Linked DNA regions of Homo sapiens: all the other regions are linked to region 7. The links come from fine-mapping of genetic effects on gene expression. A gene starts in region 7. Each other region holds a variant in brackets. All regions are shown on one strand. Distances are from middle to middle.

Region 1 (4,065 bases), 160 kb after region 7:
CGTGTAGCAATGCTGGGCATTATTCCAAGCCTTTTGCGTAGGGCGCTCCTCCAGGTCCACGGCAGCCTGTGCAGCATCGGCCGTCGCCCAGGTGATACAGGTGAGGCCCGTGAGAGGGGCCAGGTGGCGCCTCCAGACTCACTGGCCTGCTGTGAGGAAGGCAGGAATGGGAGCCTTGTTCCAAAGGTCAGGCCCGACCGCTGTGTCGGGGAGCATGGGCAACACCCGGGAGGAGCGGGCAGAGCCCTGGAACAGGCCAGTCAGTTTCGCCCATGGCCCTCACCCTGGTGCCTGTTGGCGTGGCCGGGGTTTCTGATTCAGCAGGTCTGGCCTGGCTGGGATTTTGCTTTTCTAAAGTGTTCCCCGTTTCTCCTGATGCTTCTGGTCCAGGGACCACACTTTGAGAACCACTGGTTCGCCTCCTCTTCTCCTTCTCCGTAGGTGTTAAACAGGATCCAGTGGAGTCAGATCCCCGTGTGACACGTGCTTCCCTGTGACTTTTCTCTCTGTATCTCCACGTTTCCGGTGCACATGCCTTTACTCAGACTCCGACACTGGCGTTGCTTTTGTCTCATCCCAGCTAGGCGACGTCTGCGTCAGCGCCTCTCATCTGTGGCACGTGTGCCCAGCGGGCTCCCTATGTGACGGCTTTTCCCACCTCTGAGTGTTCATGTCACTCGCTGCATGTTCTGCCACACTCGGCCCCTCTGCAGAGCCTCTCACTTGTTTCAAAAGAACTTTCCATAGTGACAAGTGAGGGCGCAGTTAGCCTTTGGAACCCTCGACTCGGCTCCTCTGTCACCAGCGTTCTCTCCCACCCTTCTTTCTTGGTTTTGAACTACTTACTGTTTTAAAACAAACCCCATTTTACTACTGAATAGCACAGTGTGTTTCTATTAAGATCAAAAATGGACCATTGTCTCACATAACAGCAATGCTTTTCACATGTAACAAAAATAACAATTTCCTGTTATTATTTAGTGCCTAGTCCATGGTCAAAGGTCTGTTGACAAAATGCCTTTTACTTTTTTTCTCTCTTTCTAATTGGATCCAAACTGGTTCCACTCATTAAATCAATCTGCTGCAATGTCTCTTAAGTCTTTTGTGTTTCTTTCACCCAGAACATTCTCTCTGTCCCCTGCTTCTTCCCATTTGCCACGCTGTTGGCTAAAAGAATCTGGATTCCAGATTCTGGACTTAGCTCATAACTTTCTTGTGTTGTTTAAGTCATTTGCCTTAGTTCCTATAGCCTGAAAGTTAGATTCAAAGACTTGGTTTACATTCAAGTACCTAAGATTTTTATTTTATGATTTAATTCTGGCGAGAATGCTGTGGAGGTTCGTGCGCTGGGAGCGGTGCTGAGAAGGCTCTGGGTTTCTGCGGCGGCCGCCTGTCCGCCCGAAGGCGGTATTGTCCTTGGTGACCACTGCCTGCATCCATTGTTTCATTCAAAGTTTCAAAATGGTGATTTTGCCATTCTGTCATTCCTCCTGCAAGTACAGGCTGGAATTCTTTGGTACAGAAGAACTTCCCCACATCTGCTAGGGCTGTTTCGTACCTCTGAAACAAGCTTCAGCCGGGATTGGCAGAATAAATAGCTACTTGTCTTTGCAGAGTAATGAATGGGTGCTCTAACAACCTCTAGTGGTATCCGGAGGGCTTGATTTTGCTTCTCTCTGTCCCCTCTCCACCTCCCTTTCTCCCTTAGCATTCTTAAGAACTCATGGTCTTCTCTGTATTCAATGTGTGGTAAGCTTTTTTTGTTTAAAATTAAACACAGATCCCTTGGGCTCTCACTTATTTTTTGGATAGAAAACTCAAAATAATAATAAATTAAATTAAATGAAACGTAGATCCCGAAGACCA[T/C]ACAAAACAAACATTGGGCTGAACAAACCAACTTCAGCTGAGCTCTGGTAAACACCGCCAAGGTGGAGAAGCGGAGCCTGACCCCCCAGCCCCACTCCCCTCACTGCCCCACTCCCCCCGCCCCCGCCGCCCCAGCCTGTCCCCGCTTGTGTTCTTCCCGGCAGCCCCGCCCAGCAGCCTCTGTCCCGACTCCCACAACGCCCACTTCCAGGGTCAGTTTCACTGTTTAGGTTTGTAGCTTCCCCTGTGGCACTGCTGCCCATCTGTCCTTCAATTTCTATATTGTTCTCGGTCCCTTCTTTTTCTTTCAATGTGTCTGTTGAACAACCCAGGCTGTTGGAAGCTTCGAGGCTCCCATAGTCTGGATTCTGTGAATCCCACACTTAGGTGGCAACTCAGCAGGTTCCTCTGTGTTTCTTGCAAAACCTGCCAAGGCCGGGTGCAGTAGCTCATGTCTGTAAAATGGGAGGTCGAGGCAGAAGGATTGCTTGAGCCCAGGAGTTCAAGACCAGCCTGGGCAACATGATGAAACCCCATCTCTTAAAAAAACTTAAACAGCCTTACAAGTTTGGCCCCTTTGTAGTACTCTTGAGTGTGGGGAGGGTTTAGCCCAAAATGAAGGGCCATGTTGTCTGGCTGTCTCACTTTCTCTGATATTGGCAGCTGCTGATGCTTAACACCTACATTTGTTGTTTATTCATTGGAGGTTTCAAAATGGTGCTGATTTTATCATTTATTATTCATTGTTCACTGGAATGGTTTTATAGAGAGACATATCTCAGGCCAGGCACAGTGGCTTATGCCTGTAATCCCAGCACTTGGGGAGGCCGAAGCAGGCAGGTCACTTGAGCTCAGGAGTTTGAGACCATCGTGGCCAACATGGGGAAACACCATCTCTACTGAAAATACAAAAAGTAGCCACTTGTGGTGGCGCCTGCCTGTAGTCCCAGCTACTTGGGAGGCTGAGGCAGGAGAATTGCTTGAGCCTGGGAGGCGACGGTTGCAGTGAGCATCAGTCGTGCTGCTGTTCTTCAGCCTGGGCGACAGAGTGAGACTCCGTCACAAAAACAAAAACAAAAACAAAAACTACCTGTTTTGTTTTAAAGGCTGTGTTGTCTGATATTAACATAGCTACTCAGCTTTCTTTTGATTAATGTTTGCACCGTACGTCATTTTCTACACTTTTGCTTTTAGTCTGTCTCTGTCTTTAAATTTAAAGTGGCTTTCTTGTAGACAGCATGTAGTTGGATTTGCTCTTTTAATAAAGAAAAATTTTGCTTTATTTTATTTTTCGAGACAGGTTCTCACTTGGACCCCCAGGCTGGAATGCAGTGGCTCTCATTGCAGCCTCCACCTTTGGGGCTCAGGTGATTCTCCCAGCTGAGCCTCCCGAGTGGCTGGGACTACAGGCATGCAACACCACGCCCAGCTAAGTTTTAATATTTTTATTTTGTAGAGATGGTATCTCACTATGTTCCCCAGGCTGGTCTCGAACTTCTGGGCTCAAGCTATCCACCTGCCTTGGCCTCCCACAATGCTGGGATTGTAAGTGTGAGCCACCGTGCCCAGCCTACTTTTATTTTTTAGAGATAATGTGCCACTCTGCTGCCCAGGCTGGAGTGCAGCGGTGCAGGCAGAGCTCGGTGCAGATTCAAACTCCTGCACTCAAGCAACCCTCCTGCCTCAGCCTCTTGAGTAGCTGGGATTGGAGCTGCCACCATGCCTGGTGGTTTTGCCCTTTTATCTAACATAGTCACGTGCTGCGTAACAGCGTTCAGCCAACGATGGACTGTAGCTGTGAAGGTTGTAATACAGGTTGATGTACCGTATCTATGAAGGTGGTCTGATAAGGTTACAATACAGGTTGAGTATCACTTACTCAAAATGCTTGGGACCAGAAGTGTTTTGGATTTCATTTTGGATTTTGGAATATTTGCATTATACTTACCAGTTGTGCATCCCAAATTCAAAAATCTGAGAGCAGGGTGAGGTGGCTCACGCCTATAATCCCAGCACTTTGGGAGGCTGAGGTGGGTGGATTGCTTGAGGTCAGGAGTTCAAAACCAGCCCGGCCAACATGGGGAAATCCAGTCTCTACCAAAAATACAAAAATTAGATGGGCGTGGTGGCGGGAGCTTGTAATCCGAGCTACTTGGGAGGCTGAGACAGGAGAATCTCTTGAACCCGGGAGGTGGAGAT
Region 2 (4,065 bases), 35 kb after region 7:
TCTAATCCAGTATGACTTACGTGTCCTCATAAAAAAAAAAGGATGCCTTGTGAACACAGACATGCACAGAAGGAAGACAGCATGCGGACACACAGGGAGAAGTGGCGCATGACTGGGGTGATGCTTCCATAAGCCAAGGAGTGTCAGGGACGGCCAGCAGACCCCAGAGCCTGGCCGAGGCAGGGGATGGCACTCCAAAGCCATTACAGACCACAAGGCCTACTGACACCTTCATTGTGGACTTCCAGCCTTCAGAACTTCGAGACCATACATTTCTATTGTTACATGTGTCCTAGGAAAAAACAGGCTGCTTCCTATAAATGTTGATATGTTGTATTTTCATTTTTATTCAGTTCAGAATATTTTCTATTTTCCCTTGTGACTTTAGAAGTGTGTCATTTAATTTCTAAATATTTAGGTATTTCCTGGATTTCTTTGTTTTGTTGATTTCTAATGTAATTCCTGTATGGTCAGAATTATACTTTGTATAGTTTCAGTGTGTTTAATTTGTTAGATTAAAAAAAAAATCCCGTATTATATTCTGTCCTGGGGAATGTTTCATCAGTGCTTGAAAATAATGTGCATTATGAATTTATTAGGTGGAATGTTCCCTATATGTCAGATTGAATTGGTTGATAGTATTAAGTCTTCCTTATTCTTTCTCATTTTCTTTCTAGTTCTATTAGTTATTGAGAGTAGAGTATGAGATCTACAGTACTGTCGAATTTTACATTTTCACTTTCAGTTCTGTTGGTTTTTGCCTCGTGTTTTGAGACTATGTTATCTTGCGTGTGTTTATAGTTGTTACATCTGCCTGGGTGTTTTGACACTTCTCTCATTATGAAATGTCCCTCTTTGTCTCTATAAATGTTTTTGTTTTAAAGTCTATTTTGTCTGATGTCAGTATAGCCACTTCAGTTTTTTTATGGTTTATTTTTGCATACTATATCTTTTTCTGGCCTTTTAATCTCTTTGTATCTTCAATCGAAGGGATGTCTCTTACAGTCCTTTCCATCTGAGATCGGATCTTGTAGATTCAGCAGTTGAATCATATATATGTATTTTTCTTACCTGATAGAAGAGATTTTATTTTTAAAGTGTCACCTTAGACTGCAAGGATGTCTGTTGTACCTCCCCATTAATCAGCCAGAGGAGGAGCTGTGATATCAGAATGCCCACTCAACCCACCAGACATTTGAGACCCACCCTTTGCTGGCCTTCTGTAACCTTATTTATTTAGAGACGGAGTCTCGCTCTTGTTGCCCAGGCTGGAGTGCAATGGCGCGATCTTGGCTCACCGTAACCTCTGCCTCCCGGGTTCGAGTGATTGTCCTGCCTCTGCCTCCCGAGTAGCTAGGATTACAGGCATGTGCCACTGTGCCCGGCTAAGTTTTATATTTTTAGTAGAGATGGGGTTTCGCTGTGTTGGCCAGGCTGTTCTTGAACTCCTGAACTCAGGTGATCCGCCTGCCTCGGCCTCCCAAAGTGCTGGGATTACGGGTGTGAGCCACCGTGCCTGGCCTGTAACCTTATTTTTTAAAGCTTTTAATTTTAATTTTTGTTTTGTTTTATTTTTGTGTGTTTTAGAGACCTGGTCTTGCTGTTACCCTGGCTGGAGTGCAGTGGCGTGATCATAGCTCACTGCAGCCTTGACCCTGGGCTCAAGCAGTCCTCCCACCTTGGCTTCCTGATCAGCTGGGACCACTGGCATCTGCCACTATGTCCAGCTAATTTTTAAATTTTTTGTAAAGATGGGGTCTTCCTATGTTGCTCAGGCTGGTTTTGAACTCCTGGCCTCAAGTGATCCTCCCATCTTGGTCTCCCAAAGTGCTAGGATTACAGGTGTGCACCCCTGTGCCTGGTCTGAAATTTTCTTTTTTTAATCAAGAGCAAGTAGATACATGTTTTCTCTGAGCCCAATATGCAGAGAAGGAAAAAATGCTAGAATTCTCTGCATTATAGGGGCCTGGCGCCCTTTAGCTTCCAACAGTGCAAAGGGGGCAGAAAGTTGTTCTTTTTTCCATAGAACATGGTGATGTTGATTCCATACAAGTTTGTTGAGATAGGAAGGGATAAAAATGAGTTTGAAACAGAAAGAGGTAGAGATTCTTTTCACATTTTATTCTCCTCAAGGTATTTCCCCCCCAGATAAGTTGAGATCCACGGTGTAGACAAAAGAGACCTCAAGAACTGGGTGAGCACAAGAGGGAAAAAGCAAGACTGC[A/G]CCTTGCTCCCGGGAACTGGAGACAGCTTTAAAAAAGGAAGGTTCTAATCCATGTGTGTTCTATTAGTTATCTTCTCCTTATCCCGTTCCTCATCAGTGTCTTCCAGTTCCTCCTCCTCATCATCTTCGTCTTCTCCTTCTTTATCATCCATATTGGGAACCAAGGAGCACTGTGATGAATTTGGCCAAGTATGGTCTTTGCTGACCTCTCCTAACTCATCTGCACCTGCGTCAGAATGGCCAGTAAACCAGGTGAAGAACCTGTCTGGTTCCTCAGGATGCCTCTTCCTACTGGCTTTATTCTGCATTTGACTTGAAGAGTTTCCTTTCCAGATTTCCATTTGATTTCCGTGGACTTTGAAGATGGATCATGACTCTCATTCAGATGAAATTCTTTGAGAGAGCTTTATTTTTGAAGTAAGGATTTTCGTCAAAATAAAAACCTATTCTGTAACCTGATTTAATATCTTCAAATTCTGTCACTTCAGCACTGGTCAAACAATGCAGTGCCTCTTCATCCTCCTCCCAAGCAGTGCAGACGCTTGTGGATGGCTGACAAATGTTATTACCCAGAAATTGGGGATTTTGGGAATCAATTCTCATCTGCCCTGAAGAACGTGGTTGGCCGAATTTGTCTATGTTCGCTCTCCCAGTCCGCTTGCCGCTCACTTGCTAAGCCTGTTTCTGAAGCCTGTTTTGTGCTGTGCTTCCTCGTGGGCTTGGTTGCCGCTTGTTCTGTTCCTCTCTTCCTCTGGCCTCTGTCAGGGGCTGGCGCCATGTCTTCCTTTCAGGCAGGGGCAGAGACGGGTGTTTGGGGGTCATTCCGGGAGGAGAGTCTGGACCCAAGGGCCTCCTTGCTCATCAGGAAGAAGCTCATAGGACTAAGATCACATTTTTTTTTTTTTTGACATGGAGTCTCGCTCTGTCACCCAGGCTGGAGTACAGTGGCATGACCTTGGCTCATGGCAACCTCTGCCCCCATGCCCTCCAACTCCATGGTTCAAGCTGTTCTCCTGCCTCAGCCTCCTGAGTAGCTGGGACTACAGGCACCCACCACCATGCCTGGCTAATTTTTGTATTTTTAGTAGAGACGGAGTTTCGTCAAGTTGGCCAAGCTGGTCCTGAACTCCTGACCTCAGGTGATCCACCCGCCTCGGCCTCCCAAAGTGCTGGGATTACAGGTGTGAGCCACTGCGCCCGGCCCCAAATTTTTTAATCTATTCCCCCAGTCTCTACTTTTCATGTGGGACAGGTAATGCGTTTCATCTAATGTAATTACTGAAAGGTAGGGTTTATACTTGTCGATTTTGTATTTGCTTTCTGCGTCTTCTGTCTTTTTTGTTACTTTCTGCCTCAGTTAGTTTTTGTTCTTCATGGAGATGGAGTTTCACTATGTTGCCCAGGCTGGAGCGCAGTGAGTATTCATAGGCATGATCATAGTGCACCGTGGCCTTGAACTCCCGGGCTCACAGGATCCTCCCACCTCAGCCTCCTGAGTAGCTGGGACTGCAGGCGTACCACAACGCCTGACTCATTGCTTTCTTCTTTTGTGTTAGATATTTTCTAGTGTATACCATTTTAATTCCCTTGCTGTTTATTTGACTGTATTTTTTATTTGTTTTCTTGGTTGTCCTGGGGATTACAATTTAGTATATTAATTTTTGATAATGTAGTTTGTATTAATACTATATTACAATACTATATGAAATATTTATTTGGGCATAGCTTAATTTCTTTTGCCCTTCTTGTACTGTTATTGTCATACAAATTACATTACACTGTGTGCCCATCTACGCAGATTTATAGTTGCTGCTTTACGCAATTGTCTTTCAAATCATATA
Region 3 (4,065 bases), 34 kb before region 7:
AAGGAAAACGTCTAGGCCTAACCACATCACCCACCCCTGCATCATCCAGCTCCCACTACCCACCCACCTTCCATCCATCTCACCATCTATCCACCCCCCGACCTCACCCTATCCAAAATTCCACCATCCATCCACCCATGCCCCCACCCACCCCCCACCCACCTTCCATCCATCTACCCACTATCCATCCAACAATCCACCATCCATCCACCACCCACCACCCACCACCCACCATCCAAAAATCCATCCATCCACCCACCATCCATCCATCCAGCCAGCCAGTCACTCACCCACCATCCATCCATCCATCCATCCAACAATCCACCATCCATCGACCCACCCGCCCTCCCACCTTCCATCCAACAATCTACCATCCATCCACCCACCACCCACCACCCAAAAATCCATCCATCCACCCCCCGTCTATCAAGCCAGCCAGCCAGCCACTCACCCACCATCCATCCATCCAACAATCCACCATCCATCCACCATCCACCACCCACGACCCACCACCCACCACCCACCATCCAAAAATCCATCCATCCACCCATGATCCATCCATCCATCCATCCATCCATCCATCCATCCAACAATCCACCATCCATCTATCCAGTCACTCACCATCTATCCACGCCACCACCACCACCATCCAAAAATCCACCATCCATCCACCACACACCCACCAACTCATCCACCCACCATCCATCCATCCATCCATCCACACGCCCTCCCACCCACCATCCATCCACTCACCCACTATCTATCCAAACTCTACCACCCACCATCCAAAAATCCATCCATCCAGTCATCCACCATCCATCCATCCAGTCACCCACCATCTATCCACCCCACCACCACCCACCATCCAAAAATCCACCATCCATCCACCACAAACCCACCCACTCACTCATCCACCCACCATCCATCCATCCATCCACCCACACGCCCTCCTACCCACCATCCACCCACCCACCCACCACCCATCAAATAGGTACTTGCTGAACACACACTATGGACCCTCATAATAGACACTACGGATACACAGTGAACATGACCTACAGTTAAATGAACCAGCGGAATCAGCTGACCTAGGCATGAAGCCTGCAGATGAGCCTCAAGTATGAGCTGCCATTCTGTGGCAAATTTGTACAGAGTAGGCAAAGGCTTCTTTATACGTGAGTCTCTCCACTCTCGCATGCCCCACATATCCACTCCATCAGGAAATCTGACTGGATATACCTTCACTTCTATCCAGAACCCAACCACTGGTCCTCACCTCCACTACTCCAAACCTGCTCTGGGCTGTCTCATCACCTGCCCAATGTCAAGTCTCCAGGCTGTGTCCCTCCCTCTTGTGGTCTAGACTCACATTCACCAAAGAGGTCATCGCAAATTTTAAAATGCAAGTCAGAATCTGTCATTCCTCTGCTCAACATCCTGCAACAGCTCCCATTTCATTCTGAGTAGGAAACAAAGTCCTTCCTGGAGCCTGCACGGCCCTGTGCCCTGGCCCATTACCTCTGATTTCA[C/T]CCTCTTCTATTCCGCTACTGCCTCAGGTCATCCTAACCATGCTGGCTACTGGCTACTCTTCTGCCATAGCAGGGCCACTCCTGCCTTAGGACCACTGCCCACCCTGACCATGCTCTCCAACAGTATAATCTGCACCTGCTCCCAGCACCCTTGGTCCCCTCTCACCTCCTTCTACCTTCTTTCCAAAGCACTCATTGCCCCTGACAGGCCATGCAGTCTCCTTCCCTATTACATATTATGCCTTGTGTTTACTGTCTGTCTCCCCGCCACAGAATGTAAGCTGGGTGAAAGCAGGGACTTTTATGTGAAAATCAGCCAGGTGTGGTAACTCACACCTGTAGTCCCAGCTACTCAGAAGGCTGAGGCAGGAGGATCGCTTGACCCTGGGAGGTTAAGGCTGCCGTGACCTGTGGTCACGCCATTGCACTCCAGCTTGGGTGACACAGCAAGACGTGAACCACCCACCCCATCCTCAAAATGTATTTATATAAATAAATTTTTTTTTTTTGAGACAGAGCCTTGCTCTCTCGCCAGGCTGGAGTGCAGTGGTGCGATCTCGGCTCACTGCAACCTCTGCCTCCCGGGTTCAAGCAATTCCACTGTCTCAGCCTCCCGAGTAGTTGGGACTACAGGCGCCTGCCACCATGCCCGGCTAATTTTTTGTATTTTAATAGAGATGGGGTTTCACCATGTTGGCCAGGATGGTCTTGATCTGCTGACCTCATGATCCGCCCATCTTGGCCTCCTAAAGTGCTGGGATTACAGGTGTGAGCCACCGCGCCTGGCCTATATAAATAATTTTTTTAAGAAGGCTGAGTGCAGTGGCTGACGCCTATAATCCCAACACTGGGAGGCTGAGGCAGGTAGATCGCTTGAGCCTAGGCATTCGAGACCAGCCTGGGCAACATGGTAAAACCGCATCTCTACTAAAAATACAAAAATTAGCCGGGCATGGCGGCAGGTGCCTATAATCCCAATTACTCAGGAGGCTGAGGCAGGAGAATCACTTGAACCCAGGAGGTGGAGGTTGCAATGAGCCAAGATTGTACCACTGCCCTCCAGCCTGGGCAATAAGAGCGAAACTCCATCTCAAAATAAATAAATAAATAAAAATAATAAAACTTAAAAAAGAAAGCAGGACTTTTGTCTGTTTAGTTTGCTAAAGTATTCTAATCACCTAGAATAGGGCTCAGCACATAGCATTTGTTGAAAGAATGAATCAGTCCAGAATTATTCAATCATTGCCCTACGGTACCTTTGCTCTGAATTAGCTCAAGGTAGAAGAACCAACCCAAGGAGAGACCTCAAGAAATGAGATCTTTATGGCTCTCAGACGGTTCAAGGCTGTGACAATGAGCAACACAAATAAGAACGCCGCCTTACACACGTGCTCGTCACTCGGACAAGCAGAGGCAGCGTGAGCCACGGCGGAGGTGAGGCCTGCCTGGGGTGGAAGGACAGCTGCTCTGCGTCAGTCTTCTAAGGACAAGATTTTAAGCTGGGCATGTCAAAAAAGCAGAATTCACCCATGAAGGAAACATCCCGTGACGAAACCCTGAGACTGAGGGAATGTGGACTATTTCAGGAAAAGGTGACTGAGAGCATAGGAGCCAAAACAAGGCCGGAGAAGCAGGCGTGGACCAGATTCCACAGGCCTTGGGTAATCGCATCACTATTTTGGATTTTATCCTCAATGAAACAGGAACTGTGAGGGGTTCTAACAATGAGTGAGATGCGATAAAGTGTGTGTGTTTTTAAAACACTTGCTTGGCTACTGTGTGGAGACTGGAACAGTCAGGAATGAAGGCAGGGCCATCACTTGCTGCTCTGCTGTAACAAACTAGATGAGACAGTGGCCCGGATGGGTAGCAGCAGGGAAGGGTCAGATCTTTTCTTCGGCTGTTTGCAAATTCAGCAGCTCCTCTTCTGTCTTTTCTCAGAGACCCGCCCCTCTCACCTGCCATGAGTTATCTCTACCTGGGAAAGAGATGCTAGCCAAAGCTACCTCCTTCCTGGAAACACCAGTTGTTAATTTCTCACTCCCACATCAGCATGCCCCAAATGCAAACCATTCACAAGACCTGGAAAGGAATCTTATTTCTCTCATGCTTCCTTTATTTCTGGAAGATAAACTATATCCAAAAAGGGTGCAGACAAACTTGAAATCCAACATGGCGAAGTCACTATTGTATCCACAGGTATCAGGCAAAAAGCACAGAAACTGGACTTCCAGTAAAAGCATAAAGGATCTGACACCGAGCATATCAGGGAGGCAGGATGGCTCTGCCCACAGGTGCCTGCTCCTCCAACACCCTGGCCAACACCACCCAAGACCCTGCACTGCCTGAGGCAAGCTATACTTTGCTCTCTAAAGAATAAGTGGGCGGGGCAAGGTGGCTCACGCCTGTAATCCCAGCACTTTGGGAGGCCGAGGCGAGTGGATCACGAGGTCAGGAGATCAAGACCACCCTGGCTAACACAGTGAAACCCCGTCTCTACTAAAAATACAAAAAATTAGCCGGGCGTGGTGGCGGG
Region 4 (4,065 bases), 42 kb after region 7:
AGCCACATGAGAATGCACATGGCGTCTGCCTTGTACTTACAGAAGCCCTTGTGTCCTAGTTTTGAGAAAGACAAACAATTACACACTTTGGTAATTGCTATTAAAAGAGATAAACAGGGTGTGATAGAAGCAGCGAAGAGGGGCCTCCTGTAGGTGGTTAAAGGAAGGCTGTCTGTGTTTCCATCTCTGCTGCAGACTGATACACAAGTGTCTTTTTCACTCGATTCCAAATGGAATCTTAGAGAAGGGTTGGCTTTTGTACTTGCAGCGCTGAGTGGAGAGGTGGCTGTGATCTCCAGAAACGTGGCTGCAGCCCCACGTGGGCCTCAGACCCTTGAAACATGGCCATATCGAACTGAGATGTGCTATGTGAAATGCACACTAGATTTCAGAGGCTTAGTACGATAGTTCACACTCTTTTGGTACTAATTATTTTATATTGGTTACATGTTGATAATGTTTTGGATCTATACTGAGTTAAAGGCAATTTATTAAAATTAGTTACTTCTATTTTTACTTTTTTTTTTGAGACAGAGTCTTGCTCTGTTGCCCAGGCTGGAGTGCAATGGTGTGATCTCAGCTCACTGCAGCCTCTGTCTCCCGGATTCAAGCAGTTCTCCTGCCTCAGCCTCCCGCGTAGCTGGGATGACAGGTGCCCACCACCACACCCAGCTAACTTTTTGTATTTTAAATAGGGATGGGATTTCTCCATGTTGGCCAGGCTGGTCTTGATCTCCTGGCCTCAGGTGATCCGCCTGCCTCGGCCTCCCAAAGTGTTGGGATTATAGGTGTGAGCCACTGTGCCTGGCCTATTTTTACTTTTTAAATGTAGATGCTAGAAATTTAAAATGATGTCTGTGGCATTTCCTGTCTTTCTGTGGGACAGTGGTACCTGGCCTGAGGAACATTTCAAGTTTGTGCTGCGGGCAAGAATCCTGTGACCACGGGGAGAGGACGAGGGACTCATTCTCTGGACAATGGGCTGGAAAGTAAGAGGGCTGAATGGGAGCCCCGAGGAGTGCTCCCGTTTTGTGGGAGAGAGGAGCTAGTCAGCAGGTGGAAAGCAGCCTTGGCTGCCCAACCCTGGAGCCTGGGGGAGGCCCCCGAGCGTGTGGGCTGGGGTGGTCTGGGGTGGTCTGGGGGAGGCCCACGTGCATGTGGGCTGGGGTGGCCTGGGGGAGGTGTGGCGCAGTTCTGTTGTTTTCACATCTCGCAAGGCACGTGTGTTGTCATGAGCTCTGGCCGAATTGGAGGCTGGGTTTGATCCCCTCACTGCCGCAAATCTTGTAACGTTGGATGTCTTAACTGATTTTCAGCTTTAACATTATCTCCTACTGTCTTTGAAAACACGGCTATTCATGTTCAGCTTCTTCCTTACCTTTCTGTACCTTAAATTCCAGTCCCTCAGGTTTCCTTCTGCCTGTGCTGTTTCCAGTCCCCACGTGGCTGAGCCCGCTGCAGCAGGCTTTGGTCTCCACTACTCCTCAGATGCCCTTTTGGTTATGGTCACCATTGACCTAGACATTGTCATTGGTTAGTTCTCAGCCTTCGTCTTACTGGTTCTTTCACCAGCATTTGTTATCATAATTCAAGCAAAAAAAACCTGGGATTAGTTGTCTCCGTTTGGCTTCTAGAACACTGCACTCTTCTGGTTTCCTGCCGCCTCCTTCTTCCCAGTCCTGTTTGGAGGACCCGCCTCTTAAGCCTGACTTCTAAATATTGACGTGCCCGAAGTCCCAGGCTGGTCCTCGTGTTGTGTGTGTCCTTATTCCCTGAGCTATCCAGTCCTCTGTTGACCCCAGGCTCGTGCCCCAGGCTGACCTCTTTGCTGTGGCTCCAGGTTGACTCCATGTTGACTGCATGGAAAACTGATAGGCACCTTCTGCCCAGCATGAAACGCAGCTCTCTTGGTCTGCCTCTCGCCCCGCAGCGCTAGACACCATCTGTAGAATGGCATTTCCCAGGAGACGCTGTCGGCTCTACCTTTATGACACAGCTTCTGCACTCCATGGCTGTAATGGGGTCCCAGCTTCTTCTCCCTGCTTTTTGGTGGCCCCTGTGCTCTCTGCTCAGGGGCAGCAGTCTTTGCCAGGCGTTGCTGCTCTGCACGCAGACTTCCTGTGCCTTCTGGGCTCTGCTCTTGCCTTTTTTTTTTTTTTTTTTGAGATGGAGTCTTGCTTTGTCACCCAGGCTGGAGTGCAGTGGTGCAATCTTGGCTTACTGAAACCTCCGCCTCCCAGGTTCCAGTGATTCTCCTGTCTCAGCCTTCCGAGTAGCTGGCATTACACGCGTGCGCCACCATGCCCAGCTAATTTTTTTGTATTTTTAGTAGAGACGGGGTTTCACCGTGTTGCCCAGGCTGGTCTCGAACTCCTGAGCTCAGGCAATCCACCCGCCTCGGCCTCCCAAGGTGTTGGGATTACAGACGTGAGCCACCGCGCCCGGCCGCATCTGTGGACACTTGCTCTCGCTCTCT[C/T]CTGCTTTCTTTTTCTTCAGAGCATTCGTACTCTTTGCATTGACTGTATGCTGGGAAACCACTCTGCCCTTCCTTCCCCATTTGTTTGTTGACACTTTTCTCAAGGAAGAGCTTTCTTTCCCCTTTCATATTTTTTTGGCATTACTATAGAATGGCTCCTGAGGTAATGAATTTGTACTTATTAAATGTGTTAAAATCTATTTTCACCATTTGTCCTTTTGAAACTCAAATTATTCCAATATGGCCAGTGAGAGCCCTTCAAGCAATATTCTGTTTGGGACAGCAAAATCGTAAGAGACCATATTGTATAATCTTCAGCAATTAAATCTGAACACCTAGATGAAATGAACTATACCTGGAAAACCCAAAAGAGTCAATGTTAAAACACAGACAGTGAAATTCAGTAAAGGAACTGGATATAAAATTGATACATTAAGTCAGTAGCCAGCTGGGTTGTGGTGGTTCACGCCTGTAATCCCAGTACTTTGGGAGGCTGAGGTGGGAGGACTGCTTGGGCCCAGAAGTTTCAGACCAGCCTGGGCAACATAGAGAGACTCCTTCTCTCCAAAAAAAAAAAAAAAAAATAGTTGGGCATGGTGCCTCATGCCTGTGGTCCCAGCTACTTGGGAGGCTGAGGCGGGAGTGTCATCAAGAGGTTGAGGTTGCAGTGAACTGTGATCACAACACTGCACTCTAGCCAGGGCATTCGAGCACTTGGAACAGAAGACTTGAACTCTGGAAATACATTTGTTGTTCTTGGACATCATAAACATGTTAGTTCTCCCAAGTTAATGCAAAAACTTATCCTTTATGTCTGTAAAAATGCCAACAAGGAATCATTCTTAGTCCTGCCTTCCCCTCTCAAATTCAGCTGGTTCATCAGAAGATCCCATCAGCCTCATCCTCAGGGTGCATCCCGTTTCCCTGACTTCTCTCCCTATCATGGCATCACTGTTGGGCCCAAGCCACCACAGTGCCCTGCTTGGATTATAGTAGTCACCCTTTAGCTGGTCTTCCTAGTTTTTCTGCTTATGAGCTGTACCATCTTATCCATTTGCCACCCAAAAAGCCAGAGACTGATCCTGGTTGTCGTATCGTGCTTGAGCTTCATCACTGGGGAAACTGGGCATCAGTGGGTTGAGTAGTGTCTTCCCAAATTCACATTCCCCTGTGACTTCAGAAATAGTGTTCTCCCAAATTCAGATCCACCCGTGACTTCAGAAATAGTGTTCTCCCGGCTGGGTGCAGTGGCTCATGCCTGTAATCCCAGCACTTTGTGAGGCCAAGGCGGGTGGATCATGAGGTCAGGAGTTTGAGACCAGCCTGGCCAAAGAGACCAGCCTGGTCAACATGGGGAAACCCTGTCTTTACTAAAAATATAAAAATTAGTCGGATGTGGTGACGGGTGCCTGTAATCCCAGATACTGCGGAGGCCGAGGCAGGAGAATTGCTTGAACCTGGGAGGCGGAGGTGGCAGTGAGCTGAGATCGCGCCATTGCACTCCAGCCTGGGCAACAGAGCGAGACTCCGACTCAAACAAACAAACAAACAAACAAACAAACAAAAATGTCCTCCCAAATTCAGATCCA
Region 5 (4,065 bases), 130 kb after region 7:
TTAGCCTAAGACAGGTCCAGGACCTAAATGTAAGACCTAAACATATAAAATTCTGAGAAGAAAACATAGGACAAAGGCTCCACAACCTTGGATTTGGCAGTGATTTCTTGGACATGACACCAAAAGTGTAGGTAACAAAAAAAAAGGAGACACACTGGGTTTGATGAGACTTGGTGTCTTTTGATGCACAAAGCTTTCTATCTCCTTGTTTCCCTGTTTCCCTGCTTCTTACTGCTGCACTTGGCTAGTCGTAAAGAAAAGACACTGTTAACGGAATAAAAAGGCACCTGTGGAGTAGGAGAAAATATCTGCAAATCCTATGTCTGATGAGGAATTACTACCCAAAATATACAAAAAAAATCCCACAACTCAACAATAAAAACAACTTGATTAAAAAATCAGCAAAGGAGGCCGGGTGCAGTGGCTTGCGCCTGTAATCTCAGCACTTTGGGAGGCCGAGGCAGGCAGATCACCTGAGGTCAGGAGTTCCAGACGAGCCGAGCCAACATAGTGAAACCCCATCTCTACTACAAATACAAAAGTTAGCTGGGCATAGTGGTGCATGCCTGTGGTCCCAGGTACTTGGGAGGCTGAGGCAGGAGAATCACTTGAACCCGAGTGGTAGAGGTTGCAGTGAGCCGAGATCGGACCACTGCACTCCAGCCTGGGTGACAGAGTGAGACTCTGTCTCAAAAAAAACAACAACAAAAAAAAAACAACAAAAAAAACCCAAAAAAGGCAAAGGACTGGAATAGACGTTTATTCAAAGAAGATGCACAAATGGCCAGTAAGCCCATGAAAAGATGCTCAACGTCACTAATCATAAGGTAAATGCAAATCAAAACCACAGTGAGATACCACCGTACACCTGTTGAGGACAGCAACTATCAAAACAGAAAATGGCACATATCAGTGAGGATGCGGAGAAATGGGAACCCTTGTGCACTGCTGGTAGGAAGTGAAACGGTGCATCTGCTGTGAAAAACTCAAAAAACTAAGTGTGGAACTACCATGTGATCCAGCAGTTCCACTGCTGGGCACGTGCCCCAGCAGCACTGAAAGCAGGGTCTTGAAGAGATGCTTGTACACCCACGTTGATAGCAGCATCAACCACAGCAGCCAAAAGGGGGAAGCCACCCGAGGGTCGGCTGTCGGGCGAACGGATCAGCAAAGTGTCGTGTGCAAAACGCAGTGACGTGTGACTCAGCCTGAGAAGCAGCGAAGCTGGGGCCCGCGCTGCAGCGTGGATGAGCCTCGGGGACACTGTGCCGAATGAAGTAAGTCAGCCACAAAAGAACAAATGTTGTACCATTCCACTTAAAGGAGGTCCCTAGAGTCGTCCAACTGATGGACACAGAAAGAGTAGAAGGGGCTGGAGTCTGGGGCTGGAGGAAGGGAATGGAGAGTTAGGGCTTAATGGGAACAGAGCTTCAGTTTGACAAGATGGAAAGAGTTGTGGAGGTAGATAGGGGTGATAGTTGCACAACATTCTGAATGTATTTAATACCATGGAACCGTGCACTTAAAGATGATGAAGATGGTAAATTTTGTGGTGTGTGTATTTTACTAGTAAAAAAAAAAAAAACAGGCCGGGCGCGGTGGCTCATGCCTGTAATCCCAGCACTTTGGGAGGC[C/T]GAAGCAGGCAGATCACAAGGTCAGGAGATCGAGACCATCCTGGCTAACACGGTGAAACCTCGTCTCTACTAAAAATAGAAAAATTAGCCGGGCGTGGTGGCCCAGGTACTCAGGAGGCTGAGGCAGGAGAATGGCGTGAACCCAGGAGGCGGAGCTTGCAGTGAGCGGAGATCGCACCAATGCACTCCAGCCTGGGCAACAGAGCCAGACTCAGTCTCAAAAAAAAAAAAAAAAGAAAGAAAAAGTAAACTTAGGTCATAAAGCAGTTTGAGTGTCCACACTTGTAGGTTGCTGCTGGGTTCAGTGTCCACACTTGGGTAGAAGCTGCAGGTCCCTGCTTGGTACAGTGTCCACACTTGAGTAGAAGCTGCAGGTCCCTGCTGGGTTCAATGTTCACACTTGGGTAGAAGCTGCAGGTCCCTGCTGGGTTCATTTTCCACACTTGGGTAGAAGCTGCAGGTCCCTGCTGGGTTCATTGTCCACACTTGGGTAGAAGCTGCAGGTCCCTACTGGGTTCATTGTCCACACTTGGGTAGAAGCTGCAGGTTGCTGCAGAAGTTGCAGTGCTTCCCTTGCGCTTTTTTGCTGGTGACCACAGGACATGCCCAGAGTGGAGGCCCTGCCTTTTGCTTTGTGAGCTTGGAGTGTTCGTGCCTTCTGCATAGGTGGGTGGGAACAGTGCCAAATACTGATCCTGAATGGCCTGGGGTCTCTGTGTGGACTTGTCGGGCAGGGAGGAAGGAGGACGGTGTCTCTGATGGCAGGGAACAGTTCTACAGGTGCTGCTGTCCAGGCATGAGGCCTGGACATAGAGCTGGGCCCTGCTCTATGTGACCTGAGGACAGAAGCCCTTGTGAGTGGCAGAGTTGTGGTGGTGACCACGCAGACTGCTGTGTTTCCCGTGCACTTGCTTTTTTCCCTCACTTCCAACCTCCCATCCACCTTGTCTGCCCTCTGGAGCCTGTCGCCTTTCTTCCTTGTCCACACCTCTTCTACCCAGCAGCCCAGCCTTCCTGCAGAGCAGCTGGGCAGTGCCCACCCCCACCCCACGCCCATTTCCACTCCTGGCACTATTTTTCCTGGAACTGTCTGTTCCACACTGTCCTATGCCTGGGCCTCCCCGAGCGTCCTGTGAGATGCCAGTTGGCGAGAGTCTTTGCTCGGGGTCCTGAAGCCCCCCCCTCGCCCCCCTTCTTGATGTTCTCCACCAGGATTCTCCTGTGCCAGATCCCATCTGCAGGGCACTGGCCCCGCTTCTTTGAGGCCTGGACTGCAAATCCTCCTTCCAAAGAGGCCCTCGAGCCTCTTCGAAGCTTACTGCCAGCCGTCCTGCAGTTTTCTTTCTCCTGGCCCCTGATGACGCTGAATCCCAGCCGTCTGGCTCAGGGCCAGACCCCTTCCCTGGACACAGCTGGAAGTCCCCCTGCAGGACTGAAGCGGCTCCTCTTCACACTTCAGCCACGTGCTCAAACACTTTCAGGTCCTTAATAGATTCTACATTTCTGAAAGTCATCCATAGATGTTTCTCTACTATTTAATGTGTAGCAAATTTTATACCTAACATCTGTTTCACACATACAACCTGTCACTCAGTAAGAGGCCCTTAGACACCATTCTTCACTTGTTTGCAGCAGACAGACTTCCTGACATGATTTATTTTATTTTATTTTATTATTATTTTTTGAGATGGAGTCTAGCTCTGTTTCCCAGGCTGGAGTGCAGTGGTGCGATCTCGGCTCACTGCAAGCTCTGCCTCCCGGGTTCAAGTGATTCACCTGCCTCAGACTCCTCAGTAGCTGGGATTACAGATGTGAGCCACTGCACTGGGCCCCGACATGATTTTTTTTTTGTTTGTTTGAGACAGAGTCTCGCTGTGTTGCCCAGGCTGGAGTGCAGTGGTGCGATCCTGGCTCACTGCAAGCTCCGCCTCCCGGGTTCACGCCATTCTCCTGCCTCAGCCTCCCGAGTAGCTGGGACTACAGGCGCCCGCCACCTTGGCCGGCTAATTTTTTATATTTTTAGTAGAGACGGGGTTTCACTGTGTTAGCCAGGATGGTCTCGATCTCCTGACCTCGTGATCCACCCGCCTCGGCCTCGCAAAGTGCTGGGATTACAATAGGTGTGAGCCACTGCGCCCGGCCGACATGATTCTTAAGCACATGAAATGCAGGGTTATCTCCTTTGTCCTCACTCAGCCATTCATTACAGGAGTCAGCAAACTGTTTCCAGGGGACAGGTAGCAAACTGTTTCCAGGGGACAGGTAGCAAACGTCAGCGCCTTTGTGGGCCACACTGTTCCTGTCCCAGCTGGTCATGCTGTTGTCACATTGAAGCAGATGCAGACAGTATGTAGACAGTGGGCATGGGTGTGCACCAATAAAGCTTTATTTATAAACAGGTGCCATGTCCGATTTATGATATTAATAACCA
Region 6 (4,065 bases), 43 kb before region 7:
CCTGTCTCTAATAAAAATACAAAAAATTGGCCAGGCAGGGTGGCTCACGCCTGTAATCCCAGCACTTTGGGAGGCCGAGGCGGGCGGATCACGAGGTCAGGAGATCAAGACCATCCTGGCTAACACGGTGAAACCCCGTCTCTACTAAAAATACAAAAAAAATTAGCCAGGTGTGGTGGTGGGCGCCTGTAGTCCCAGCTGCTCAGGAGGCTGAGGCAGGAGAATGGCGTGAACCCGGGAGGCGGAGCTTGCAGTGAGCCAAGATCCCACCACTGCACTCCAGCCTGGGTGACACAGTGAGACTCTGTCTCAAAAAAAAAAAAAAAAATTTGCCGGGCGTGGTGGTGGGCACCTGTAGTCCCAGCTACTCAGGAGGCTGAGGCAGGAGAATCGCTTGAACCCGGGAGGTGGAGGTTGCAGTGGGCCGAGATCGTGCCACTGCACTCCAGCCAGGGCAACAGAGCAAGACCCCATCTCAAAAAAAAAAAAAAAAAAAAGAAAAAAAGAAAATCACCATTTTGCCATTACCATAATTTATTCAAGCACCAATTGTCTCTGAATTGGGTAAAAGTCTGAAAAGGGAGTTATTGACACAGGTTCAAAGATTCTCACCACAGATTACTGATTAATCCCAAAGAGGAAAATAGTATCTCTTCAGTGAAGGGATTGGGGCAAACACCACCTTAACAAAGTGACCAAATTTCACAAAAATGGAACAATGTGGCATCATAGGCCCTTGATGTGAGGAACTAAGGAGGGCACAGCGCCACTTTCACAGGTTTCCTGGCAAAAATGCACGACCCCGGCCAACATGGTGAAACCTCGTCTCCAATAAAAATACAAAAATTAGCCAGGCGTGGTGGCAGGTGCCTGTATTCCCAGCTACTCGGGAGGCTGAGGCAGGAGAATGGCGGCGTGAACCCGGAAGGTGGAGGTTGCAGTGAGCCAAGATAGCGCCACTGCATTCCAGCCTGGGTGACAGAGCGAGACTCCATCTCAAAAAAAAAAAAAAAAAAAAGCATGACCCCATACCAAAGACTCGCCTCAGACTCAGGTGTGAACTGAAAGAGAATGAAAACGATGCATCACGCCACACTGAAGTGACTTTACCAATGCCAGACAAAACTGACTTTAAAACAAAAAATGTTACTAGATTTAAAGACAGACACTTTATATTGATAAAAGGGTCAGCACATCTGGAAGATACCAGAATTATAAACATATATAAAAGAGATCCCCAAAATACGTGAAGTAAAAACTGATGGAAACGAGGCTGGAAATACATAATTCTACAGTTAGAGTTGGAGGTAGCAATAGCCCACTTTCTTTTATTTTTTTGAGATGGAGTCTCGCTGTGTCTCCCAGGCTGGAGTGCAGTGGCGCGATCTCGGCTCACTGCAAGCTCCGCCTCCTGGGTTCACGCCATTCTCCTGCCTCAGCCTCCCAAGTAGCTGGGACTGCAGGCACCCACCACAGCGCCTGGCTAATTTTTTGTATTTTTAGTAGAGACGGGGTTTCACCATGTTAGCCAGGATGGTCT[C/T]GATCTCCTGACCTTGTGATCTGCCCACCTCAGCCTCCCAAAGTACTGGGATTACAGGCGTGAGCCACCGTGCCCAGCCAACAGACCACTTTCAATATTGCCCAGACAGGAGATTCAGTAAGGAACCAGAAGATCTGAACATTATAAAGCCGAGACCTCACAGGCACCTACAGGGCACTCCAGCCAACAGCAGCAGAACACACGTCCGCAAGTGCACAGGGGCACTCCCCAGCAGAGACCACACTCTAGGCCACAAAACTAATCTCAGTAAATTCAACAGGAATGCACAATGGAATAACATTAGAAATCGGTAACAGAAAGAAATGTGGGCACTTAAAAACATGTACATTAAACAACACACTCATAAATAACCAATGGTCGAAGAAAAAAACCACATGGGAAATTAGAAAGTACCTTGAGATGAATGAAAATAAAAATACAACATACCAAAATGTATGGGTTGCAGCAAAAGCAGTGCTCAGAGGAAAATGTATCACCATTAATAAAGAAAAAAGACCTCAAATTGTTTTAAGATGAGAAATATTATGGCTGGGCATGGTGGTCCCAGCTACTCGGGAGGCTGAGGTGGAAGGATGGTTTGAGCCCAGGGGCTGGGCACGGTGGCTCATGCCTGTACTTTGGGAGGCCAAGGTGGGCGGATCACCTGAGGTCAGGAGTTCAAGACCAGCCTGGCCAACGTGGTGAAACCCCGTCTCTACTAAAAATACAAAAATTAGCCAGGCGTGGTGGCACAAGCCTGTGATCCCAGCTACTCTGGAGGCTGAGGCAGGAGAATTGCTTGAAGCCAGGAAGCAGAGGTTGCAGTGAGACGAGATCACACCACTGTACACCATTCTGGGTGACAGAGCAAGACTCCATCTCAAAAAAAAAAGATCTCAAATTGTTTTAATACAAGAAATATTATGGCTTGGCATGGGGGTCCCAGCTACTCAGGAGGCTGAGATGGGAGGATGGTTTGAGCCCCAGGAGGTTGAGGCTGCAGTGAGCTACAATTGCACCACCACACTCCAGCCTGGGTGACAGAGCAAGACACCATCTCAAAACAAAACAAAAAACGATGAGAAATACAAAGCACATTCACAGAACTAACAGAAACAATACAGAAGAGATGGAGAAACTAAAGATGCAAAACACAGAGGAATACAGGCCAGGCACGGTGGCTCACGCCTGTAATCCTAACACTTCGGGAGGCCAAGGCAGGCGGATCACGAGGTCAGGAGTTCCAGACCAGCCTGACCAACATGGTGAACCCCCCATCTCTTCTAAAACTATAAAAATCAGCCAGGCATGGTGGTGGGTGCCTGTAATCCCAGCTACTTGGGAGGCTGAGGCAGGAGAATCGCTAGAACCCAGGAGGCGAAGGCTGTGGTGAGCCGAGATCGCACCACTGCACTCCAGCCTGGGTGACAGAGCAAGACTCCGTCTCAAAAAAAAAAAAAAAAAAGAGGAATACCATGCGGAAATCGAGTCAATCAAGTCCTTGAGTACAATCCAGTGCAGAGAAGAAACTGGCCTTGGGAACAGGTGTGGGTCACCCACCGCTGCAGAGGGCAGAGAGCATGTGGGTGGCCCGAGAGGCTGGTGGGCTTAATGGTGGGAAGATGAGGTGGTTTTGTGATTGCTTATTTTTGGAGTGAGGGGAGAGAGAAGAGGCGAAAGAGGAGAGATCATGAGCTGCAAGTCAGGAGGGAAGAGGAGGTCCTGGAGGTTTGAGCAGAGAGAAGAAAATGTGAACCAGTTCTGACAGTGGGGGATTACTGCCTAGAGAAATGTTACAGATCACCAGGAATCCCAGGGACCTACTAGAACACAACGTGGACAGCTGATTCCAGCCACGTTCTCCGGCTCAACCAGAATCAGAGGTGCTTGTTCCCAACAAAACAACACTGGGTTCTGCCCAGAGTGTGAGAAAGGGATGAAGGGAATGGAGTGTGAGCTCACAGGGGGCAGCAGACCACAGAGTCCCAGCTGACCACAGGCAGGAAGAGCATGGGAGAGCACAGACAAGGATGGTTATGGGAGTGATGGGTGGCCAAGCCTCCAGACTAGAGGTCCCAGTGGGGTCAGAGGTCTGCCGAAATGCAGGAGGCACCGGAATGACGGAGCTGGGAAACCAGGGAAAACTGTGGTTAGAGAGCAGAGATTCTGGAGCTGGGACAGTTATGGATCACGACCAAGTCTAGGGCGCGACGCTGGGAGTGTGTAAAAGCTGAGGGAAGAGCCCAGCAGAGCAAGGGAGCAGGGAGCTGAGGGAAGAGCCCAGCAGAGCGAGGGGGCAGGGAACTGGTGCCCTGCCCTGAGGCCCAGCAGCCACGGGTCCCCACTCACCCATTGCCTTTTGGCAGTTGAGGATCTTAAAGCCACTGTGCATGCAGGCGGCCAGGAGCAGGTGGTGGTGGAAAGGGTGCCACTTGATTCTCCATACCCCACCCTGCACAGGCGTATCTGCCAACGGCTGCTTCATGTTTCGTGTGTCCCACAGTAGGATGTGTTCATCATAGCTG
Region 7 (4,065 bases):
ATGGGTGGGAGATAGGGTCAGAATCAAGGATGTGCAGAGTCCTGTGGGGCTTAGATTGTGGCTGACCTGGGATAAAGGCCACCTGTGTTCTGTGTCCATTGTCTTCCATCTCAGTAGCTTGCAATACAGTCTGTCTGTCCCTTGCTTGAAACACTTTCTTTTTTTTCTTTTTCTGTTTTTTTTTTTTGAAATGGAGTCTCACTCTGTTGCCCAGGCTGGAGTGCAGTGGCGTGATCTTGGCTCACTGCAAGCTCCGCCTCCTGGATTCACGCCATTCTCCTGCCTCAGCCTCCCAAGTAGCTGGGACCACGGCGCCTGTCACCACGCCCGGCTAATTTTTTTTTTTCTTTTTGTATTTTTAGTAGAGACGGGGTTTCACCATGTTAGCCAGGATGGACTCGATCTCCTGACCTCGTGATCCGTCCACCTCGGCCTCCCAAAGTGCTGGGATTAGAGGTGCGAGCCACCGCGCCCGGTGAAACACCTTCTTTCTGACTTCTGGCATGGCCGACTGCCATTCGGGAGGGCTGTCCACAATCCTTGCCATCCCATGGCACCCTTCTCTCTTGTTCGGGAATTCTGCCTGTGCATAGCCTTGGCAGGAAAGTGTCTGGAGCATGGCCAGTTAGACCCACCTCCGGAAACATCGGAATCCTAAGGGAGTGAGCTGGGCCTGGGGCTTCAGGGCCTCTCCCAGCCTGGCCCGGGGGCCCCTCCAGCCTGTGAGCCCCTTTCTCTTTGCTGGGGTGCCAGACTCCTCCTCCCTGACCTGTTACCTTCTACCAACTAGGGATGGCAACATTTTAGTGCTTGACTCCCAGGCTCATGCACGGAAGTACTTGGTCCATTGGGGATCAGTGGCACCTCAGACTCTGCATGTGATGACCCTCCCACCCCCAAACCATGTGTATCTAGGTCCGTCCTCCCCATCAGAGAAGGCCACCCTCTTCACCGGCTGTCCTAGAAAAACTCGCAGCACTGGGGCCCGCACACCCACTCCGTGGTGAGCTGGTCCTTGTCGAGCGACGCCTTCCCTCTCCAGGACTACCCAACCGGTCTCTCCCGCCTTAGGTCCCCTGGGTATTTGAGTCCCACCCCCCGCGGCTCACTCTCTACAAAGGGACCCTTTAAAAAAGATAAATGGGAGTGTGTTCCTCCTGGTTTCAAGTGATCCAAGTCCTCGCCCCACCTGGCCCCCGACCCTTCTGCTGCGGACCCCTGCCCAAGGGCCTCCGCCCAAGTGTGGCTCCCTTGGGCCCACACCCCATCAGGCCAGCAAGGAGGGGGATAGCGGGGGGCGGGGCAGGTGCTGGGACTCCGGGCAGGTGCGGGGAAGGCAGGGGGCGGGGGGGGAAGGGGTTGGGCGATGCAGGTGTTGGGGGCCGGGACAGTTGCGGGGGTAGGCAGGTACCGGGAAGGCGGGAGGGCGGGCAGGTTCCGGAGGGGCGCGACAGGTGCTGGGACGCGAGGTAGGTGCGGAGAAGGTTGGGGGTGCGGGGCAGGAGCCGGGGGTGGGGGTTGAGGCGGGGCAGGTCCTACGCGGCGGAGCATCCCCGCCCAGGACGCCCGCGCGGCCCCGTGACGTTTTTCCGCGACTCGGGGTGAGGGAGACCCCTGGGCGGGACGGGCGGAGGGTGGGGGCGGAGGAGTGGGTTCTGCCCGCAGCAGAGTGCAGCGGGGAGACCTTCCCAGTCTCAGAGCTCGCCTCGGCCCCGCCCCCAGCCCTGCCCCCCGACGGAGACGCGGCGGTGACTCCCTCCGTGGGGGACGCACGGGACGCTTGCGCCTCAAGTCCCTTAAGCGGCGCCCGACGCAGCGCAGCACCTACCCAGCCGGGACAGGGCCAGGGCCGGGGATGGATGAGCGCGGCCGGGGGGCGGGGCAGGGGTGGGGCGGCCGAGGCAGGGGCGGAGCTGGGAAGGCGAGGCAGGGGCGAAGGGCGGGGGCGGGGCGAGGAGGCTGTCAGAGGGGCGGGGAATAACGAGGGGGCGGGGCCACACGGACGGATGGGGCGGGGAATAGGGGCTGGGCCGGGCCTCCGAGCGGCAGTCCGCGGGCTACGGGGCGGCCGGGGGGCTGGGCGGGGCCGTGGGGCGGGGCAGGGCCTGGGAGGGGCCGGATGGGGGTGGAGGCCGGGATTGGGACGGATGGGGGCGGGGCATAGGAGGGGGCGGGGCCGGGCCTCGGAGCCGGGACTCGCGGGCGGCGGGCGGGGGCGTCGCTGCGCGGCTGGCCGGTGAGGCCGCGGCATGGGGCGAGTGCAGCTCTTCGAGATCAGCCTGAGCCACGGCCGCGTCGTCTACAGCCCCGGGGAGCCGTTGGCTGGGACCGTGCGCGTGCGCCTGGGGGCACCGCTGCCGTTCCGAGGTGGGCGCGGGTCCTCGGGGAGGGCCTTTGGCCGCACCTGCGCGGGGCCAGGGCTCCCGGAAGCGGCTGCCGTCGCCTGGCCCCGGGTTGGGCCCGCGGAGTCGCTGTCTTCGCCGCCCGGGACTGCTGGGAAGCGGGCTCGGCGGCGCCGGGGAGGTCCGGGCGGCGCCGCCCTTCCGCGTCTGCCCTTCCTGCCCTCTCGCCGAGGGGCGGCGGGGTCCCGGCGGGGCCTGAAGCGGGTCCACTGTGGAGGACGCCCTGAGCGCGGGCGCACGCAGGCCTGCGACCCTCCCCGTCCGCGCTCGCACCTGCTGGGCTCCTTCCCGCACCCTGGCTCCCGGCGCAGGCGCTCCCGCTGCAGAGCCGCTCCTGGCGCGGGCGTGCGGTCCCGGCGGGGTGCAGACACCTGCTGCGGCTCCCTGCGCCCCCTGCCACCCGCCAGCAGGCCTCGCCGGCCCCCCGCCGAGGTGGACGCCTGGGCCTCGGGGACTGGGTATCGGGTTGCTGCAGTGGCCGCTGGCAGGGCGCCCTGGAGGTGAGGGCCGGCCCGCGAGGTGAGGCTGCCTCTGCCCGGCCCTTGGCTGTGAGTGCCGCGTCCCTGCCGGGGACTTCTCTACCTTGGCCTCCTGTGGGAACCACCTGGGCTGCTTGGCCTGTGCCACAGCCCCTGGACTTGCCGCTGGACCTTGACCGCTGGGCCCGCGCGTGGGTAACAGCACCGATTTTGTGCCTGCTGAGAACCCACAGTCTCTGTTCTGTCCTCTCAGCCTCCTGGGACAGGTGATGGTGCTGTGGCCCTGACCCTGCACCGCCTGAGGCTGTGGGGCCTCGGAAGAAGCCGGGTGGTAGGTGCTTCTGTCAGGCTCCTGGCCCCACTGGGCCTCCTGGGATGACCCCACAGCCTCCCTTCCTCTGTCCCAACCTTGAGTTTGGGGTCTGGGTGGGGGCAGGTGTGGCCGTGGCAGGGCAGAGATAGCACACACATCTCTTGGGTACAGGTGTGGTGTGTGGTGAGGCCGGCTGGATCCTGGTTGAGGGCTGTGCAGGACCCTGTCGTCCTTCCCCTGGCGTGGCCTGGGGTGAGCAGGCCATTGCTTACCACAGGGAAGGGACGGCCCCGCGGTGCGTGACTGGCCTGGGTGTGCAGGCTCCCCTGGCCTCCGGGTGGACGTGGTGGGTGGGTTGAATGCTCACGCCTGTAATCCCAGCACTTTGGGCAGCTGGCCCAAGAGCCGAGGGAGCACTGGCTGATGGTCCTACCTCACAGAGGCTGGTCTGAATGAGGGAGAAAAAGGAGGGTCGTGAGCTAAGGAGTAGGAGATGGGCCCTGATGGGCCAGAGAGCACATGATTCAGGCTGCTGCAAGTGAGGTGGGAGGGTGTACCGGGGCCCCCGGGGGTTTCCCCCAGCCCTGCCTGGGATGGGAACAGAAGGACCATGGTTTCTTTTCCTCATTCAGAGGATGCTTGTCAATCCTGCTAGGAGCCAGTAGGGAGGCCCTCAGCCCCCAGGAGGACAGCAGCCCTGCCTGGGCCCCAGAGCTTGCTCACTTACTCTGCCGATGAGTGTCGGTGACAGTCAGCACCCAGCCGTGAGGACACCGGCTGTCTAAAGGGCTGACGCGGAGGGAGGCCTGGGAGGGAGCAGTTTTCTGGAGCTCAGGCTGGCCCAGTCCAGGGCTGGGGTTCAGGCAGGACC

What was found.
Region 1: its variant is fine-mapped to the expression of ARRDC1 in whole blood (TOPMed, PIP above 0.99).
Region 2: its variant is fine-mapped to the expression of ARRDC1 in blood mononuclear cells (TOPMed, PIP above 0.99).
Region 3: its variant is fine-mapped to the expression of ARRDC1 in whole blood (TOPMed, PIP above 0.99).
Region 4: its variant is fine-mapped to the expression of ARRDC1 in whole blood (TOPMed, PIP above 0.99).
Region 5: its variant is fine-mapped to the expression of ARRDC1 in whole blood (INTERVAL, PIP above 0.99).
Region 6: its variant is fine-mapped to the expression of ARRDC1 in whole blood (TOPMed, PIP above 0.99).

The regions. Positions count from the first base shown.
Region 1 is chr9:137,763,686-137,767,750 of GRCh38, forward strand. The region is part of intron 10 of EHMT1 (euchromatic histone lysine methyltransferase 1); the gene reads left to right. Among named protein-coding and RNA genes, the nearest start is that of MIR602, 73 kb to the right of the region's middle. RefSeq lists an enhancer at 1-690. The variant T/C (reference allele first, on the strand shown) is at 1,867.
Region 2 is chr9:137,638,713-137,642,777 of GRCh38, forward strand. The region is part of intron 1 of EHMT1 (euchromatic histone lysine methyltransferase 1); the gene reads left to right. It also overlaps the pseudogene SETP5. Among named protein-coding and RNA genes, the nearest start is that of EHMT1, 22 kb to the left of the region's middle. The variant A/G (reference allele first, on the strand shown) is at 2,225.
Region 3 is chr9:137,569,168-137,573,232 of GRCh38, forward strand. The region is part of intron 5 of DPH7 (diphthamide biosynthesis 7); the gene reads right to left. Among named protein-coding and RNA genes, the nearest start is that of DPH7, 7.7 kb to the right of the region's middle. The variant C/T (reference allele first, on the strand shown) is at 1,530.
Region 4 is chr9:137,645,450-137,649,514 of GRCh38, forward strand. All of the region lies in intron 1 of EHMT1 (euchromatic histone lysine methyltransferase 1), which reads left to right. Among named protein-coding and RNA genes, the nearest start is that of EHMT1, 28 kb to the left of the region's middle. RefSeq lists an enhancer at 1,855-1,924. The variant C/T (reference allele first, on the strand shown) is at 2,477.
Region 5 is chr9:137,737,503-137,741,567 of GRCh38, forward strand. All of the region lies in intron 4 of EHMT1 (euchromatic histone lysine methyltransferase 1), which reads left to right. Among named protein-coding and RNA genes, the nearest start is that of MIR602, 99 kb to the right of the region's middle. RefSeq lists enhancers at 578-837, 3,641-4,065. The variant C/T (reference allele first, on the strand shown) is at 1,635.
Region 6 is chr9:137,560,545-137,564,609 of GRCh38, forward strand. DPH7 (diphthamide biosynthesis 7) reads right to left here. Exons shown (of 9, transcript NM_138778.5): 8 at 3,890-4,062. Among named protein-coding and RNA genes, the nearest start is that of MRPL41, 11 kb to the left of the region's middle. The variant C/T (reference allele first, on the strand shown) is at 1,541.
Region 7 is chr9:137,603,469-137,607,533 of GRCh38, forward strand. ARRDC1 (arrestin domain containing 1) reads left to right here and starts at 2,218. Exons shown (of 8, transcript NM_152285.4): 1 at 2,218-2,367. The coding sequence starts at 2,250. It overlaps LOC124902318 (a long non-coding RNA gene), which reads right to left and starts at 1,870. Exons shown (of 3, transcript XR_007061885.1): 1 at 1,829-1,870. RefSeq lists silencers at 1,480-2,609, 2,620-2,889.